3 linked regions of the Homo sapiens genome follow. The protein of the gene in region 1 interacts with the protein of each later gene in a pairwise test. Each region holds a gene or a part of one and is shown in the gene's direction. Other genes may lie near its edges.

The links. The genes of interacting proteins can lie anywhere in the genome.
Region 2: the proteins of EYA3 (region 1) and HSPD1 interact in binary tests that used the Homo sapiens proteins (3 or more experiments, as listed by UniProt).
Region 3: the proteins of EYA3 (region 1) and WFS1 interact in binary tests that used the Homo sapiens proteins (3 or more experiments, as listed by UniProt).

What each region holds. Positions count from the first base shown.
Region 1 is NC_000001.11:27,969,725-27,973,631, reverse strand, and holds the end of EYA3 (protein phosphatase EYA3), read left to right. Parts: 3' UTR 1-3,288; downstream 3,289-3,907. UniProt on the Homo sapiens protein: Tyrosine phosphatase that specifically dephosphorylates 'Tyr-142' of histone H2AX (H2AXY142ph). 'Tyr-142' phosphorylation of histone H2AX plays a central role in DNA repair and acts as a mark that distinguishes between apoptotic and repair responses to genotoxic stress.
Region 2 is NC_000002.12:197,496,841-197,503,981, reverse strand, and holds the start of HSPD1 (60 kDa heat shock protein, mitochondrial), read left to right. Parts: upstream 1-4,141; 5' UTR 4,142-4,200; intron 4,201-5,131; 5' UTR 5,132-5,133; coding exon 5,134-5,307; intron 5,308-6,589; coding exon 6,590-6,842; intron 6,843-7,141. Other genes in the region: HSPE1 (10 kDa heat shock protein, mitochondrial), read right to left, coding at 723-773, 854-943, 2,744-2,908, 3,543-3,545; HSPE1-MOB4 protein, read right to left, coding at 2,744-2,908, 3,543-3,545. UniProt on the Homo sapiens protein: Chaperonin implicated in mitochondrial protein import and macromolecular assembly. Together with Hsp10, facilitates the correct folding of imported proteins.
Region 3 is NC_000004.12:6,293,850-6,300,849, forward strand, and holds part of WFS1 (wolframin), read left to right. Parts: intron 1-1,191; coding exon 1,192-1,340; intron 1,341-6,807; coding exon 6,808-7,000. UniProt on the Homo sapiens protein: Participates in the regulation of cellular Ca(2+) homeostasis, at least partly, by modulating the filling state of the endoplasmic reticulum Ca(2+) store.

The sequences.
Region 1 (3,907 bases):
CCTTAGTCTTCTTTCCAGTCCCTTTTCCCTTTAGTCAAATGGCACAACCCTAAAAACTCCTTCAGCTTGACTGTCATTCAGACTGTATCACAGGAGGCTTAGCTTCCAAACTGGAGAGAAGGAACTAAAGTGTCTTATGAATTTCAGCTTCTTGGCTCTTGAGACCGAAAGGTTCTACCTATTCCCCCTGCAGAGAAGCACCCATTTCCCATCAGATGCTCGTCCCTGCAGCTTCTTCCTTCTTGGTCATCATAATGCTAGGTTCTTACCCCTTTCCTGCCCTCTGCACCTCATGTCCACCTCCAGGCAGCTCTGGCCAGTCCCCGGGTATTAGACCCAAGAATTCAAATCAAATCTAAAAACATGCTTATAACTACATTTTGGCCAAAACTGCCAATGTATTTGACTTCCTTTGTGGAAGCCCTAAGCCATATGAAGGATGTCCCAGGTATGTATTTACCCAGATCTCTGCCTGAAACTGAAGAGCAGATTGCTGTATTTAAATTTTCCCATGGAAAACCCTGCTTCTCAAATCCCATTCTAAAGTAGGAAACCAGAAAGACTTTGCTGATTGTGGGGGGAAGGGAGAAACAGACAGGTTTTCACATTGTTGCCAAGGCTGGTCTTGAACACCTGGCCTCAAGCGATCCTCCCACCTCGGCCTCTCAAAGTGTTGGGATTGTAGGCATGAGCCACTGCACCCAGCCAGACTTTCCTGATTTAAATGAGAGTACTGCATCATTCCCTACTTCATGGCCCAAAACTTAATCCTGGGCCAAATGCAGGAGCATCTCTCGACCTCTGGGCAGATTGGTGGGTGCCCAGGCACTAGTCACAGCCTTCCAGCCCAGCCATGATTGTTGGATGCCCCATCCCTCCAAGAGCAATTTGGGCATCTACTCAGGCAGGATAAAATTCCCTAGAGCTGAGGAAGTTCAGCCTCTCCCAGGCTACACAGAGAGAGATGATACAAGCACCTCAGATTGAGATGCAGGATTGGTCCGCAGAAGGAGGCATTGTTGACCAACCCCAGCTATAATTGCTTGTCACCAGAGATTCTGCATACCCATTTCCAGAGATGTTGCAGCACAAAGAGGCAAGACTCCTTCCAATGCCAGGCCACCCAGATAGCAAGAGAGAGAGGCTGGTATACACATTCCTTCAGAACTCATTGAAAAGCGCTCATAACTCGTGATTTTAAGGAGTAAGTTTTTGCTGAGTAGCTGAAGTCAGTGCTCCTTTACTTAGCTGCCTCTTTGGCCTTGTTTCCTGTGGGGTTGGGAGGAGGGAGATGTAGTGTGAGGTAGGCCTTCCCTTGGTCTGTATTCAGCATAGTTGCCTAGATGCTGCTCTGCCTTGTTTGATGGTTGATCTTAGGAAGCTCTAGGTTTTACTCTGAGGCCTCAAACCCTCCCCCTATGCAGTATAGCTGTTGGGTTTTTGTCCTGGACAAAGGCCACGGCTGTTGTGCTGCGCTTCAGGTTTGTGAGGCTGCGGAGTGGTACCCCCACCATGCACGCAAGCACACACACACAGATACTTCCCTCTCCACCCTTTTGGGAGCTCTTTATTTTAGAATGTAACTTGAACTCACTTTTATCATTGGCCTTTTTCCTCTTACTCTGACTTCCTAGCTTAGCTCTTTCCAAAAGGAACTTGAACTTGGCCAAGAGAGGTAAGGAGGCTGAGCAGAGCAGTCTTTGCTCATTCCTGGTTGTTGCCACCCTCATTTAAATGGAAGAGAGAAAACAGGAGCTTCTTGGCTGTTTGCCAAAATGAATTGTCCAGGGAACACAGTGCTCTCTGTAATTACCCTGCCTTTTTCTCCACCCCAACACAAAAATCTGGAAAGGAAAATAAGTGGGTAGGATTAAGAGCTGTTAGAAGCTGAGGACCAAAGGACACTGTGGGTCCATTCATCAAGGGGGAGACCCTCTTCATTAGAGTCCTCATGAAATTAGCCAAATGATGAGTCCTTCCCTAGCTGGGCATGGTGGGTTCTCTTTTTTTTTTTTTTTTTTTTTTTGTTGTTGTTGTTGAGATGGAGTCTCGCTCTGTCACCCAGGCTGGAGTACAGTGGCATGATCTCGGCTCACTGCAACCTCCGCCTCCCAGGTTCAAGCGATTCTCCTACCTCAGCCTCCTGATTAGCTGAGATTACAGGCGCCCACCACCACGCCTGGCTAATTTTTGTATTTTTAGTAGAGATGGGGTTTCACCATGTTGACCAGGCTGTTCTCAAACTCCTGACCTCAGGTGATCTGCTCACCTTGGCCTCCCAAAGTGCTGGGATTACAGGCATGAGCCACCATGCCTGGCCAGGCACTGTGGGTTCTACAGGATGGGTCTGTAATGTCACGGTGAGGGCTCTCTCTAGTAGTAGATCTGGAGTGAGGTGTGTCTTGGGTTGAGGAGGTGGCTTGACTTTCGAATGTAAAACTGACTGTGCCTTAGCATCACCCTGTCCAGTGCCCCTGGGGCAGCTGGTAGTGTCCAGAAGAATGGACACCTGCTCCAGATTTAGATGCCCATCTGGGCTTTTGTTTGATTTGCGGCGTTCCTGTCTTCTGTAAAGCTAGTGAGTTGTCCCAAGAGACTGATGCCACAGCTTGTTCGCAGTTTACACAAACTCAGCTTTAAAATTCCAAATAGAATCTGACTTGCAAACTCTAGCTGCAGCATGTGGAGCTTCTAGATGTTTACTACCTTGAATGGTTGTCAGTGTCACTGAACCACAGGGGAGAGGAGTATGGGGTAGAGCAATGGTCTGGGCCAAGGAATGGTGAGCTTAGGGTCTTCCTCTGACTCCTTACTCCTCAAGGAGGCAGTTAGGGTCCCTCTTAAGCAGGCTTCTATTTCTTACCACTAAATTGGTTTCCTTTTTCATCCAGAAGTTAGAACTCCCCAGATATTCACACTATAGGATCTGAATTCCGAGATTCTAAAATATCTTAAACCACAAGAGAGAAAATCTAGTTCTGCCTCAGCCCCAGTCAGCAGGCCATCTGTCCCTTCCTCTCCTCTGAGTCAGACAGCTCTGGCAAGCAAGGCTCCTTGGCTAGTTCCTAATGCACTGACAGGAGCCCTCCCATTAAGGACGACTTCTACTCAAAATGCGACTCTCCCTCTGAACTTCAGATGCCTCTGTTAGCAGGAAAAGGCATTGATTGGATTGGATATATTTATGTGACTGCGGGCATTTGTGGCTGTAGAATCCGTGACCGTAATGTTATATGTAATGGGAACTATCTTATAAACTTGAAAAAAATAAAGTTTTTATTTTCTATAGTTTGCTCCTGTGTCTTTTCTGAATAGGATCAGCACAGTTGCCCAGCTGTGTGGGGTCCTAATTATGGCTTCATAAAAATTCTAAGAGTTCATTAGAAAGATGTCACCCTTTCAGTAACTGGGTCATTTCACCAAAAAAGTAAGAACAAACCATTTGGTATAAATATACATGGGAAAATATTTTAAAATAATTTGTATGGGAGAATGTATTGTTTCTAAAATATATTGCTTTTAAAGTTTAGAACTGGAGTGAGAAAAGATTTCATTCACTTCCAAATATGCTGAAATTTATTAAGGAGAGAAATCAGTACCTTGCTGCACTGCACTTAAACCACAAAAGCGATAAAACTGACAAACTGATACCAAACCTCATTTGATTTGCCCTGATTTCCTGTCACATCAACTACTTTTTCTCATTTCATTTCTCTGATTTGGGTCTGGCTGTATCCCTCTGGTCTGGAAAACAGTCACAAAGCCTTTCTGCCTTTTAGTCCAATGAAGGAAATCAGAATTGGGTTCTAGCTTCCAAGTACCATACATGTCAGACTATAAGATGTATTTTTCCAAAAATTCCCCAGAAAAGAGGAAGTTGCCTATTCTAGTTATTAAATGTTTTCCT
Region 2 (7,141 bases), on another chromosome or scaffold:
GAGTTAGGAATGAAGACCTGTATCCACAAAGTATTGAACACCTTAAGACCTGTAACTCGTTAGCTTGTTATATTTGAAATCTGAATGTTGCTGTGGTGGCTCACGCTTGTAATCCCAGCACTTTGGGAGTCTGAGACTAGCCTGGGCAACATGGCAAAACCTGTCTCTACTAAAAACACAAAAATTAGCTGGGCATGGTGGTGCACGCCTGTAATCCCAGGTACTCTGGAGGCTGAGGGAGGAGAATCACTTGAACCCAGAAGGCGGAGGTTGCAGTAAGCCAAGATTGAACCACTGCACTCCAGCCTGGGTGACAGAGTGAGAATCCGTCTCAGAAAAAAAAAAAAAAAAAGTAAATCCATGGCTTGGTATCAGTATCAATCATGTATTAATAAAGCTAAATTCAGTGTGAAAATGCACCTACGTAGAAAATCCTGTTTCCCAAAATTCTCTGCAGGTTACTTGAAAAACAGAAAAAAAGCATAAACTAGAAAACCCTAAAATCATCTTAAAATAACTAAAGATTAACCACTCATTTACATATTTTTATTTGGAAGTGTTTATATCAGTACAAGGAAACAATTTTGGAGACACTGGATGTCATTAGTTATCATTAGTTTATTATAAAAGAGAAATATGGAAATTATTTACATGACGAAAGATTTCAGAACTTCAGTGGAATGGGCAGCATCATGTTGATGCCATTTCAATAGTGACTTATTTCAGTCTACGTACTTTCCAAGAATGTCACCATCTCTAAATAGGAAATAATCCTGCAAGTGAAAAAAACCATTAGTTAAGACAACTAATTGCAAATATCTGACTTCTTTTTAGAATTATTAAGTTTACACACCTTGTCATCTAGAACTACTTTGGTGCCTCCATATTCTGGGAGAAGAACTTTATCTCCAACTTTCACGCTAACTGGTTGAATCTCTCCACCCTTAAAAAAGGAAGGATGTTTATTAGCAAAGATATCTAGTTCACCCAACATAAACAGTTAACTTTTAAATCACTACAACTAATGAAACATGGTCACTCAAATCCAATTATATTAAAAATATATTTCGTGGCTAAGTGATACGACTCATACTAGAATTACAGATCTTCACTCAAAAATACCACTGTAGTTACACTTTGAAATAATACACAGTGGCTTAAACTAAAACCTGACTCCAACGTAAAAGTTCAAGAAAATATTCTGGAAAAGCTAACTTTAGTTAACTAAAGCTAACTTTATAACTGTTAAATATTAACATAACTTATCAACTATATGAAATAAACCTGCAACAGTAGCCAGCACCCAGAAAATGCCATATACAAATGGTCATATTTTCCTTCTTTCAACATACAAAAATTTAAAGTTTTTTTGGATTTAGAACATACTCTTGTGATTGTTTTGTTCCCTCCAAAGAACAGATTTGGGGAAAGGGACTGCAGCTAAGTGTCCACTCCCCAAAGTCTTCCTATTCCTAACTCCATGACAGCTCCTCAGTAGAGCTTTCCTCCTCAGAAGCAACTAGAACAATGCAGTTAACATTATTTGGCCCCAACGGCGTTTACTGTGTATTTTGGCTGAGATCTTTAGAAGCCCGAGGCCTAAACAATTAACTGAGGAACATCTAAAACAGAGGTGTGCAATCTTTTGGCTTCCCTGGGCCACACTGGAAGAACTGTGTTGGGCCACACATAAAATACACTAACATTAGCAGTAGCTGGTAAGCTTAAAAAAAATTGCAAAAGAAATATCAGGTTTTAAGAAAGTTTAGGGATTTGCGTTAGGCGGCATTCAGAGCTGTCCCAGGCTGCAGATTGGACAAGACTGACCAACCTGTTCCTCTGGTAGGTATACAACCAGGTATACCAACTGGTTAAGATTAGGGCAATTTCAATGTGTTAGGGGTTAAACGAACAGTCCAAGTTTCCTCTCAATTCTTAAATGCCCCCTCATTTTACCTTGAAGCACATCTTTTGTATTTATTTATTTTGTAGACAGGAGGTCTCATTATGTTGCCCAGACTGATTTTGAACTCCTGATTTTGAATCCTGAGCTCAAACGATCCTCCTGCTTTGGCCTCCCAAAATGCAAGGATTACAGGTGTGAGCCACCACGCACAGCCTCTTTTGTCTTATTAAAAATTTAGAATGTAAGGCAAACACTGATCACACTAGGCTACCAAATTGCTATTGAGGGGATTTTTTTTTTTTTTTTTTGAGACAGAATCTCGCCCTGTCCCCCATACTGGAATGCAGGGGCGCCTTGCAACCTCGGCTCCTTGCAACCTCCGCCTCCAGGGTTCAAATGATTCTCCTGCCTCAGCCTCCCCAGTAGCTGGGATTACAGGCGCATGCCACCACACCCGGCTAATTTTTGTATCTTTAGTAGAGACGGGGTTTCACCATGTTGGTCAGGCTGGTCTTGAACTCCTGACCTTGTGATCCGCACACCTCGGCCTCCCAAAGTGCTGAGATTACAGGCGAGAGCCACCGCACCCGGCCTATTGAGGACAATTTTTAATACTCTGAAACTATCACATAAAATAAGCATCATAGCATTGGTCATATAAAATAAGCAACTTTATATTAGTCATTTCCCTTTAAGAAACAGATTAGAACCAAAGCAGTTAATGATCTTGAAAACGACATAAACTCTACTTAATAAGCGACTTTTAATACTCCAGAATTACTTCTTTTCCCTCCACTGCACACTATAAAAAATAGTTCCACTGCAGCTCCCATTTACCTTTCCTTTAGAACCCGATCCAACAGCGACTACTGTTGCTTGCAATACTTTTCCTTGAGATTTTTCTGGAAGCATAATGCCTCCTTTGGTTACAGTTTCAGCAGCACTCCTTTCAACCAATACTCGGTCAAAGAGTGGAAGAAACTTTCTAAACGCTTGTCCTGCCTGTAGGAAGAGAAATGTTTTGAAACAAAAACTAAATGTAATCACATTATCAACAGGCAACGCCACCGTGCTATACATCTCAACACGTTTTGGCTTTGAAAGTTAACACCAAACCTCAGCTTATTCGTTAAGGAAGCGCATTTGAATGTACTAACCAATATTCCAAGTTTAATTCCCGATTCCTTACGTCTGTTAGGGGTCGTTGTCGCTCCTCCGGTGAGCAACCAGACCAGCTTTAAGGTCAACCTTAGTTTATTCCAAGGTCAAATGTTTTCCTTCTTCAGGTTTTTCCAGAAATTTTCAGGAAACGCTGGGTCAAGCTCCCTGCCTGGCACCATGATTTTTACCCAAGATATTACACATCCACAAAGGCCCTGCAGAAGCAGGTGAGACGCTGCGCGTGCGCCCGGGTTCTCGCCCCCCTGCCTTACACACCGGCAGCACACGCGCGTGCAAAGAGCCCTGGGGGAGAAAAGGGTCGGGCGGGCCTTGCCGCTCCAAGGTGCCATCGGGCGCTGGTCACTGAGTGGCCACCAATCCCTCCCGCCCAGCCCAACAAAAGAGGGGCGTCAGGGATCCCCGTACGCCTCAGACAGGCCCGGGCCTGCAGGCCTCGGGGCCACGCGGGACTCACCATTACTCCCTCCGCCTCAGACTCGTACTCTGCTCTAGTGTAGCGCCGCAAAGAGACTCGCAGTCCGGCCCTGGCGACACGTGAAAAAATCACCCAGCGCGCAGGCGCGCTCGCCCCAGCGGTCGCCGCTAGCCCCCTCGCCCCTCCCAGGGAGGGAGGGCGGTCGCCCCGACGCGCACCGCGATTCGCCCCAAGGGCCCTGCGCAGGACGCTGACGCGAAGACTCGGAGGCGGAAGAAAAAAGGAGCTGTTTCTAGGCTTTTCTAGGCGCCCAGCCGAGGTGAAAGAACTACCCCTTCGTCCCCTCCCGGAAATGACGCGATTTGACCCTTGAGCCGTAGGGAGCGCGGCATTTTCTGGAAAGTTCTGGAACCGAGCGAGGCCCGGGAACTAGACTAAGCCGGCCGGAGAGGGCTGAGCGCGCTAGCACACCCTGCGCGGGTAGGGAGGGGCGGGGCTCGCGCGCAGGGTGTGCAGATTGCAGGGCCCGGGCTGACGGGAAGTGGGTGGGAGCTGCCTGCACACGCGGTGCCGCGGGGCGGGAGTAGAGGCGGAGGGAGGGGACACGGGCTCATTGCGGTGTGCGCCCTGCACTCTGTCCCTCACTCGCCGCCGACGACCTGTCTCGCCGAGCGCACGCCTTGCCGCCGCCCCGCAGGTACGCGGCCTTCCCGCACCACCTCCCCCCGGCTCCTGCGACCCCCGAGTGGGCCTTCCTCCTCTGCGGTCCAGCTGGAGGGTGCGGGCGGCGACAACCTGGAGTTCCGCACCGCGCCGCACCGCAGGCCCAGGCCTGCGGGTCCAGGCCTCGCGGGTCCATGCGGGTTCCATCACGTGCGACGCGGATCCTGGACCTCGGCTGGGCGCGGGAGGGACAACTCGTGGGGTTTGAATTTGGGGGATTGTAACCACTTAGGCCCGCTGGTGCAACCTGCGCCTGGCCGACTTCAGGGAACCGGGGAGGGTGGTGTACGTGAGGGAACCGCTTTTTTCCCCCGCAGGCAGCTGGGATACCGCGCCTCCAGTCTTGACCTTGCTGGGGGCGTTCGGAAAGAAGGACACGTGGGCTCGCGCCGAGTGGGCCGGGCCGCCGCCCCCAGCATCGCGGCCTTGCTGGTTGCTCTGATACAGTAGCCTTGGGTGGATCCATGGAGACACTTTGCTGAGCGGCTTTTTGCACCGTCAGGAATACTTTTAACTTCCCTGGTCACTTGGATTTGTAACTTGCCTCTCTCCGGCTGACTTGGTTTCTCAGGGGCCACAGTTGGAGTGGGTCTGCCCACAAGGCCGTTTTCGCGGTGAAAGATTAACTCGTTTTTGGCGGCAGGGATAGGTGGCCGTGGGGAAGGAGCCGCATGTGCTTTGTGCTGGTGCTATAGGTCAGGCGCCGGCCGGGGCGGCCTCTTTAGCTTGCGCTAGTGGCTGATGTTCCGAAGCTGCGGCGCCTTCCGTCATTCAGGCGTAGTGGCTGGCGGAGGTCAGCCAGGCTCAGCATCTCACGTTGCTTGCTCTGTTGCACAGGTGGGCATGTTTGTTCTGCAGCGCACCACGGGTGGTAGTTCTGATGATCTTTTTGCTTCCATCCCCAGAAATGCTTCGGTTACCCACAGTCTTTCGCCAGATGAGACCGGTGTCCAGGGTACTGGCTCCTCATCTCACTCGGGCTTATGCCAAAGATGTAAAATTTGGTGCAGATGCCCGAGCCTTAATGCTTCAAGGTGTAGACCTTTTAGCCGATGCTGTGGCCGTTACAATGGGGCCAAAGGTACCAGTATTTTTATTTTATTGTAATTACGGTATTATTAATAGCATTTTACTCACAAATAGTCGCACTGAACTATTCAACAGTACTTTCATCTCCATTTTTGAGAGAACTCAGTTTACATGTAAGAATTCTGAAGTATTGGTTAGCCTTTTTTTCTTAGACATGATCTTAAAGCTTAAACTGCTTCAGCCAGATTTTCGAAACTATTTTGTTCAATGTGTGATGTAATCAGGTAGTAACTTACAGCTCAAGGTGGATTCTTAAACTCGAGGTAGAATTTCGCTGGCTTAAGTTAAAATTTGGATCCTTTCCCAGTAGTTCATGCCAAGTGTAGAGAGAAGAGTTTAACTTATCTTCCATAATTCCTTAGGTATGTGCTTGTAGATGCTAAATTTTTTTTTGGTTTATTGTAGTAAAATGTACACAACATAAAATTACCATTAAGTGTGCACTTTGGGGACATCAATTACATTTATGTTGTGCAGTCATCACCACCATCCATCTCCAAAACTTTTTATATGGAAAAATTGTAACTTTGTACTCATTAGACAGTAGCTTCCCATTCTCTCCTCCACCCCAAGATGCTAGTTTTACCCATCGGTTTTCTGCTGTTCTCTTGTTCCAAAGCATATTTAAAATAAGTCTCATTTAATAGGGGTAATGTTTTGAGGAGGCCTTTGAAGGTGGTGTGCAGTCAAGTGGTGCTTCATTTCAGTTTGAAGACAGTTCAGATATCAAGTGATCCAACAACTGCCTAAAATACAACATTTGCACACCTCACAAATAGAAAGTAGCAGCTTTAGTTCAAATCCAAAGGATGGCCAATAATTGTGCCATGGTTGAAGTTTTATGTTGCGTGAACCTGGAAGAGCACGCTACTTGCCTTGATGGTTAATATTTTAGTTAAACGGATTTTAAAACAAGTCACATTACTTTAAAAGATAACAGGCACTAACTAAAGTATAAGTGATAGGAAGATTGTTTTATTCTTTGTCTTGTGTTCTTGTTCATTTTATAAGATGACAAGTTTTAGTCCCTAGGATTTTAATCTCCTAAATTACCTAGTTCAAAATTATGCTCTTGGCAGAGAATCAGGTCATTTTGTCTGTAGACAAAGAATGTCGATAAACTTGCCCTTGAGGTTCATGCTGCAAGACTGATAAAAATGACACAACTTACGTTGAGACTTTGAAGTAGTTGCTTTATTATGAAGACTGCTCATTTTTAAAAATGTAAATCATCCTTAGGGTATGTCTGATCCTGTTACATTTTTTTCTTCTAGGGAAGAACAGTGATTATTGAGCAGAGTTGGGGAAGTCCCAAAGTAACAAAAGATGGTGTGACTGTTGCAAAGTCAATTGACTTAAAAGATAAATACAAAAACATTGGAGCTAAACTTGTTCAAGATGTTGCCAATAACACAAATGAAGAAGCTGGGGATGGCACTACCACTGCTACTGTACTGGCACGCTCTATAGCCAAGGAAGGCTTCGAGAAGATTAGCAAAGGTGCTAATCCAGTGGAAATCAGGAGAGGTAGGAATGTCTGTTGTCACCACAGTGTTCTAAACTTCAGTGTGCTTTAAGGCATTGATTCCTTGGACCTAAGGAAAGTGTTAACTTGAGGAAATTAATCCTTCTCTCATTCCTCCTCTTGGCCTGGAGAAATCTTAAACTGGGTTTTCCTTTAGCAAGCTTGGCTGTATGGTGGGTAGGTACTGTTAGGTAATTTTGATATTTTACTTAGTTGGTTTCTTTTGTTTTTAGAGACAGGGTCTTGCTCTGTAGCCCAGGCTGGACTGCACTGGAACTCCTGGGCTCAAGCAATCCTCCTG
Region 3 (7,000 bases), on another chromosome or scaffold:
GCAAGCCCCCAGCCCGCCCAGGCTGCATCCAGCCCGTGCTCCTTCCACATCTCCTGTACCTGGCTGTCCCATGGTCACCTCACAGCTCAGTCTACAGTGAGCTACTGAGGCCTGTGCTACCTGCCACTTGTGTGGGCCCCCCCAAGGCTGCCTCATCTCTTTGCTGCAGCTACACCTGGGTGCTGCCCCGACTCCTCTCCTCTTGCACACACAGCTGATCCATTAGGAGGTCTGTCAGCGCCCACTATCACGGCTGCCATCTTGGATGCAGCCTGCCTCCTCCCTAGGGTTTCTGCAGCACCCTGGCTTGTCTCCCTCTGCCCTGCCCCAGCATGGTCCTTTCTTTCCCATCCTTCCCCTGGAGGCCCTCCTGGTCACCATCTCACCACGGCAACTGGGGTCCTTCAGGGGCCTCATTCCCTCCTAGGGGATCATGTTGGATAGAGGGGTCAGTGGGCACGTAGCTCTCGCGGATCACGTTGGATGGAGGGATCAGTGGGCACGTAGCAGGCTCTTGGTGGAAGATGTTGGATGGAGGGGTAAGTCGGCCCATGGCAGGACGCATGTTGAATGGACGGGTTAGCAGGCATGTAGTAGGCCCATGGCAGACACTTGTTGGATGGAGGTGTCAGCAGGCACATAGTAGGTGTGTGGCAGATCATGTTGGATGGAGCGGTTTAGCAGGTGCACAGTAGGCCCTGGGTGGATCACGTTGAATGGAGGGGTTGGGGGCGCAGATCATGTTCGATGGAGCGGTTGGCAGGGTACTGCCCTACAGGGCGGCTTGTCACCCGTGCTGTGAGAAGCCCCACGCTGGCTGAAGAGGAGGGTGTCAGCATGCACTGGAGGTGCATGTTGTAAGGCTTGGCAGGTGAACTGGGTGAAAGGTGTGGGTGAGTGGCCCCAGGCATAAGGAGCTAGGCAGAGAGGGACACTTGGGGTGGGGGACAGCACACCCAGGGGCCGGGGGCCAGGAGTGGAGGCTGGCACTTGGCAAACCTGCCCCCTTCCTCCTCACCCAGCCTGGTCCTCAACCCTCAGGCCGCCCAGGGAAGGGTTTCCTCCACCTGAACCCACTCAGCTCCTTTCTTAGCTTGGCCCCACGCCACCGTCCCCAGCCCATTGCTCTGTGTGAGGGTGGCAGTGGGGCTGCAGTGTGGGGCGCCCATGCTGTTTTCTCTCATGCTTCAGCCAAGAACTACATCGCGCTGGATGACTTTGTGGAGATCACTAAGAAGTACGCCAAGGGCGTCATCCCCAGCAGCCTGTTCCTGCAGGACGACGAAGATGATGACGAGCTGGCGGGGAAGAGCCCTGAGGACCTGCCACTGCGTCTGAAGGTGAGTGACCAAGACCCCGGTCAGGCCGGAGCCTGCCTCCCAAGGACTCGCGCACCTCAGGCAGGGCACCTTCCAGGAAGCTGCAGGTGGGGAGGTTCGCGCCTAACAAAGAGTGTCTTACAGCCGTGCCGCTGGTACCTTTGGGTCATCATCTATCGTCATAAGGATGTGTCCTCGGGAGAGAGGCCTTTCTTTTCTGCGCCGTCAGGCTCAGAAACCAGGGGCGGTGTTGGGCAGGAGTGCTAGGATGGCAAGCAAGGGGCCCCTGGGTCTTTCTGTGCAGTGTAGGGGGCAGTGGGGCGGGCTGGACGCAGACTTTCATCTAGACTTCATCACTTAGCAGATTTCTCCATGTATGGTCCAGAGTGGAGGCCAGTGCCTTGAAGATGCCTTCCCCGAAAACAAAGTGCCGTGTCCGTCAGGCCAGGGAGGACGTGCAGAGGCGCCTACTGCCCCTGGATCTGCAAGGGCTCAGGGAGCGAGGCCAGTGTGGGAGCGTGGTGGGTGACACTTGTGCAGGGTGCCATTGGGCACACCTGGAGGACATGAGCAGCTTTGGCGGCAGGAGGAAAGCGGGGAGCGGGGAGCGGGAAGCCCAGCAGTGCGGGCCCTACTCCTGGCCTGACAGCTTGTTTTCTTGGCCATGTGGCCCTATGGCCTCTCACAGAGTTGCTCACAGTTCAGCTCGCATGGTTGAATTAGATGTGTGCCTGTCTCACTCTGCAGAGAACACCAGGATTTCCAGAAGCTTGGCCTCCTGACCCAGGATCCCCAAGCTGAGGCCAGCACAGGGGGCCCCAGCAGATGATTGTCACAGAGGCTGCGGGCAGTATCATGCAGGCACCCTGGGGTTCTGTCTTCTGAACTGACTGAGAACCTGGAGGAACTGCCATCATTGTATTCAGATGGGCGCGTGAGTCAGGGCCAGGACCAGGAGATGGTTGGGCCACCAACTGTCAGGCAGGCAGCAGGCTGAAAGGTCACCGTCCTCGAGCCAGGGAGAAGGTCAGAGTAGGCCCGCCCTCCGGTGGGGGGGAAGAGCAGGAACCCAGGTGCTGCAGGAGCAGCTTCAGCCCAAAGAGCAGCAGGCACAGCAGCCCTGCTGCAGGGACTCGGAGCCAGACAGGTCTGAGTGTGAGCCCCCCGAGTGCCCAGAGCTGCGAGTCCTTTAGGGTGGCAGGTGGAAGGCTCTGCTCCTCCCACTTGGGACAGGCTGTATGTCCAGGGTATGACACCGACCGGTCTGCAGAGGTTCTGAGACATGGGCCAGGATGGCCAAGAACTTGAACCAAGGGAGCACATGGTTTTTACTGATGGTCTGCTCAGAGCTGGCCCTAGGCAAGCATATTCACAGATTGGGTGCCATCATCTCCTTACTAATGGGAGATGAGGAAGCTGGGGTGCTGGCATGGTTTTGGCAAAGACACTCCCGAAATGAGAGTGAGGGTCACAGGTGAACGGGTTAACTTGGAGAAGACCCTTGGGCCAGGCGGCCATGGCCCAGGTGTCCCAGTTTATGCCATCTGGTGTAAGTACTATTATAATAATGCCTCCTTGCATATGCGTCCTGTTCGGAAAATTATGTCACCTAGTTATGGATGGTGAGTCTAGTGTTGTGTAGCATCTGAAAATCCTATTTATTTATGTTACTTAATGACAGGGTCTCGTTCTGTTGCACAGGCTGGAGTGCAGTGGCACGGTCACAGCTCACTGCAGCCTCAACGTGCCAAACTCAAGTGATCCTCCCACCTCAGCCTCCCAAATAGCTGGACTACAGGCATGTGCCACCACACCCAGCTGATTTTTTTGAAAACATTTTGTAGCGATGGGGGTCTCACTATTGTTATCTACGCTGGTCTCAAACTCCTGGGTCAAGCGAGCCTCCCACTTTGGCCTCCCACACTGCTGGGATTCAGGCGTGAGACACTGTATCCAGCCTGAAAGTCCTTTTTAGAAGGGAGAGATTTAAGCTGTTTTGACAAGAAGTAAACAAGACTCTGTTTCCCTTTAGTTTTGGATGCTGTCAGAGCACTTCGATTCCTTTGCAGTTTGTCTTCTTAGAAGTCTCTTGTGAGGGAGGCAATGAATCGTCACAAGCGTCTCCCAGGGCTGAGAGCTGTCCCACCTTTTAGTAGCCTTTTGTAGAACAAGGAGAGGTCTTCACTCAAAGTGAAAATGACAGACACCTCTTTGTGAGCCACCCTTACTCCCACAAAGAATGTTCCAGACTCCACACAGTTCTCTTCTGGAGCCTGGAGGTGCAAGCTGTCATCGTAGATAGAATCCTCTGAAAACAAACTTAATATCTTAAAATCGTAACATTTTTAACATTACATAATTGGAAGATCCGACACGGGAACATTTTTGCCCACAGGTTTGAGCAGAATCTCGTCTCGGCTCCCTTCCCCAGCCTGCCTTCTTCACGGGTCCGCTGGGCCATCGGTGTGGTGACGCTGCTTCCTGGTTTCTCGTGGCAGCAGAAGGGCCGATCACCACAGGCCCAGACAGAGAGCTCTGCAGTGTTCTATTCATAGAGGCAGACTCCTCATAGTTTTTAAGTTTCGTTCTTTTTCCATCTCAGGAGTTGAATTTGTTTGGACCTTCTTTGCAGAAAAGGAGACTGAACTTTTTAATCCCATGTCAGAGGAAGGTCTTGGGTGTACATTGCAGGGAGCAGAAATTGGGGCTTTAAAAAGGGGATCGTTCCCTGGTCATCGAGTTCAGGTGGGGGACCAGCCCCTCCACACTGTCCAAGCAGAGGCTAGACGCCATCCAACGTAATGTTCTAGAATATTCCTTGTCTTTTAAAGGCCCTCTCAACCAGGTGGTTGTGTGTGTTCTAGGCAAAAGAATGTGCATGGCTTTGAGTAAGACAGGATTTCAGATTTATTTTTACCAAGGCCACCCCCTTGCTACCGTGGCGGTCGTGCGTGAAACTGGTGGTGAGCAGTGGCGGGCCAGGCCACCTTTAGTTGTCCTGCTGTTCGCAAGGCCCCCATACGGGGATTAACTGAGCAGCCTGCCGGCTGACGCACATGTTGACTCGTGTAGCTGTTGATTTTAGCCAGCTGGCCTGGCGTCATACTACAGGGGCTTGCCCCAAACAAACCCTGGAGTAGGTTGGTTTTCATAAATGCCCTCTGGCTCTCTGGCAAGCGTTGGAAATGCCCTCAAACCCTGTAGTGCCTGGTCTTCCCTGGCCATCTCCTGGCAGTGTGAGCGCCTCTCTGCTCATGTAGAAGGTTGTTGACCCCAGAGAGAGCTAGGGGAGCTGTTAGCTGCTTTAATCGTTTATTTGCTTGTTATAAAACAGAGATTAAGTGGACTGTCACAAATATACATGAAGCAGCAGAGCTGTTCCCCCACGTGTAGACGTGCATGCACACACTCCTAAACACTTCCGTTTCTTCCATGAGCCTGTCCTTCTCATCTGTGGAAGGCTCAGTCTGTGTAGACATGCATGCACACACTCATAACACTTCCGTTTCCTCCATGAGCCTGCCCCTCTCCTCTCATCTGTGGAAGACTCAGTCTTCTGGTTGTTTCCAGGTGTCCTGGTCCTCCAGAGCTGATAGCCAGGCTGTTGGCAGGTGAGGGCCACATTCTGGTGTTGTCACCTAGTTGCCATTCACCTGGGATCCCTCCTTGGCCTTCTGGTGGGCCTGGTGGAGAGAACCTGCCCCAGGGGATTTGTGGGGTCTGGTGCTTCCCCGAGGCCCGGAGCTGATGGGGGGCTCCAGCCTGGATGTGTCATGTAGCCCCTCAGTGGGCCCTGGACATGCAGCCAGGCTTCCCTACCCCCATGTGGGGCCGCCCCCTAGGCGTCCACTTCCTGGTGTTGGTCCAGGCCCCTGGCACTTCTGAAGATGCACAGAACCTGCTTTGTATGCCACGCCATGCTGTGTGAGCACTGGCACCATGGCCACTTTGTCCCCCATCCCCTCCAGTCCCTCTGCCTGGCTGCCCTGTGTTCTGGCAGGGCTCAGGGCCTCTGAGTTCTGCACAGACCAGGAAGGCATGAGGGCTGGCCCTGGGTGGCAGCGCTGCTTCACCCCATCCTGAGGCTGCTCCCAGCATGCCTCCCTCAGCCCTCTGCTCCTCTTGGCTGTGGTGAAGGCCAAGAGCTCTTTCTGACCTTAGCGCTGCATGCAGAGCAGGGGAGCAGGACCCACAGGTCGGGGGAAGGCAGCCTTTGGCCTTGACTATGGGGAGGTAGGGGTGCGCTGGTGTGTATGTGTAGGTGCACACGTGTAGGGGTGGGTGTGCATGTGTGAGGGTGCACGTGTGGGGGTGGGTGTGCACGTGTGTGTAGGGGTGGGTTGCGTGTGTGTGAATGTGTATAGGGGTGGGTTGTGTGAATGTGTGTGTAGGGGTGGGTTGCGTGTGTGTGAATGTGTGTGTAGGGGTGGGTTTGAATGCAGGTAGGTTGCGTGTGTGTGTAGGGGTGGGTTGCGTGTGTGTGAATGTGTGTGTAGGGGTGGGTTGTTTGCGGGTAGGTTGCGTGTGTGTGAATGTGTGTGTAGGGGTGGGTTGTGTGAATGCGGGTAGGTTGCGTGTGTGTGTGTAGGGGTGGGTTGCGTGTGTGTGAATGTGTGTGTAGGGGTGGGTTGTTTGAATGCGGGTAGGTTGCGTGTGTGTGAATGTGTATAGGGGTGGGTTGTGTGAATGCGTGTGTGTAGGGGTGGGCTGCATGTGTGTGTGTAGGGGTGGGTTGTGTGTGTGTGTATGGGGTGGGTTTGTGTGAATGCGTGTGTGTAGGGGTGGGTTGCGTGTGTGTGTGTGCACGTGTGTGTACGGGCAGAAGGTGGCCTGGCAGCTGCTTCTCAGGGTCTCCGGCCATAGGGAGGGCAGCTCACCCGGCAGCCCCGTGCAGCTGAACGGTATTTTTGCTGGGAGAGTGGTGCTGGGCCCTCTGCCTGTGTCTGCACTGAACTCCCTTTCCCTAATGCTTGCTCTGCCACCCCTCCGGGGACTGCCTGCGGCTTCTCCTCCTCGTAAGGATCGCCATTTCCCTTCATGGAGGCTCAGGGAGGTGACATCCTTGCTGTAGTGCAGAGCTGGGTCACAAAACCAGCTCCCAGACAGGCATCTCAGGGCTCCGTCATCTCTTCATGTGGGTGACCCTGAGGGGAGGGAAGTGGGGAGCCCGTGGGTCCCTCCAGTGCTGGAGGTCTTGCAGGGAGAGAAGCACACATGCATCTAGTCACGCTGGTAGAAGGTGGGGAGCCAGGCACGGGGCAGAGGGGGGCTCCAGGCCCAGAAGAGGGAGGGCTCACAGGGACCGCGAGCATGGGGAGGGCCACCTGGAGAAGGGGGGAGGGAGGACCACTAGGATGGGGCTGGTGATGGGAAAACGCAAGGGTGCGGGTTCCTTTTGCCCAGAGGCAGGGTGGTCAGAGGGAGGCGTGAGATGGGAGCAGTGGGGGTCCTGTCCCAGCCTCGTTCCCACGTACCATCTTTCCCCCAGGTGGTCAAGTACCCCCTGCACGCCATCATGGAGATCAAGGAGTACCTGATTGACATGGCCTCCAGGGCAGGCATGCACTGGCTGTCCACCATCATCCCCACGCACCACATCAACGCGCTCATCTTCTTCTTCATCGTCAGCAACCTCACCATCGACTTCTTCGCCTTCTTCATCCCGCTGGTCATCTTCTACC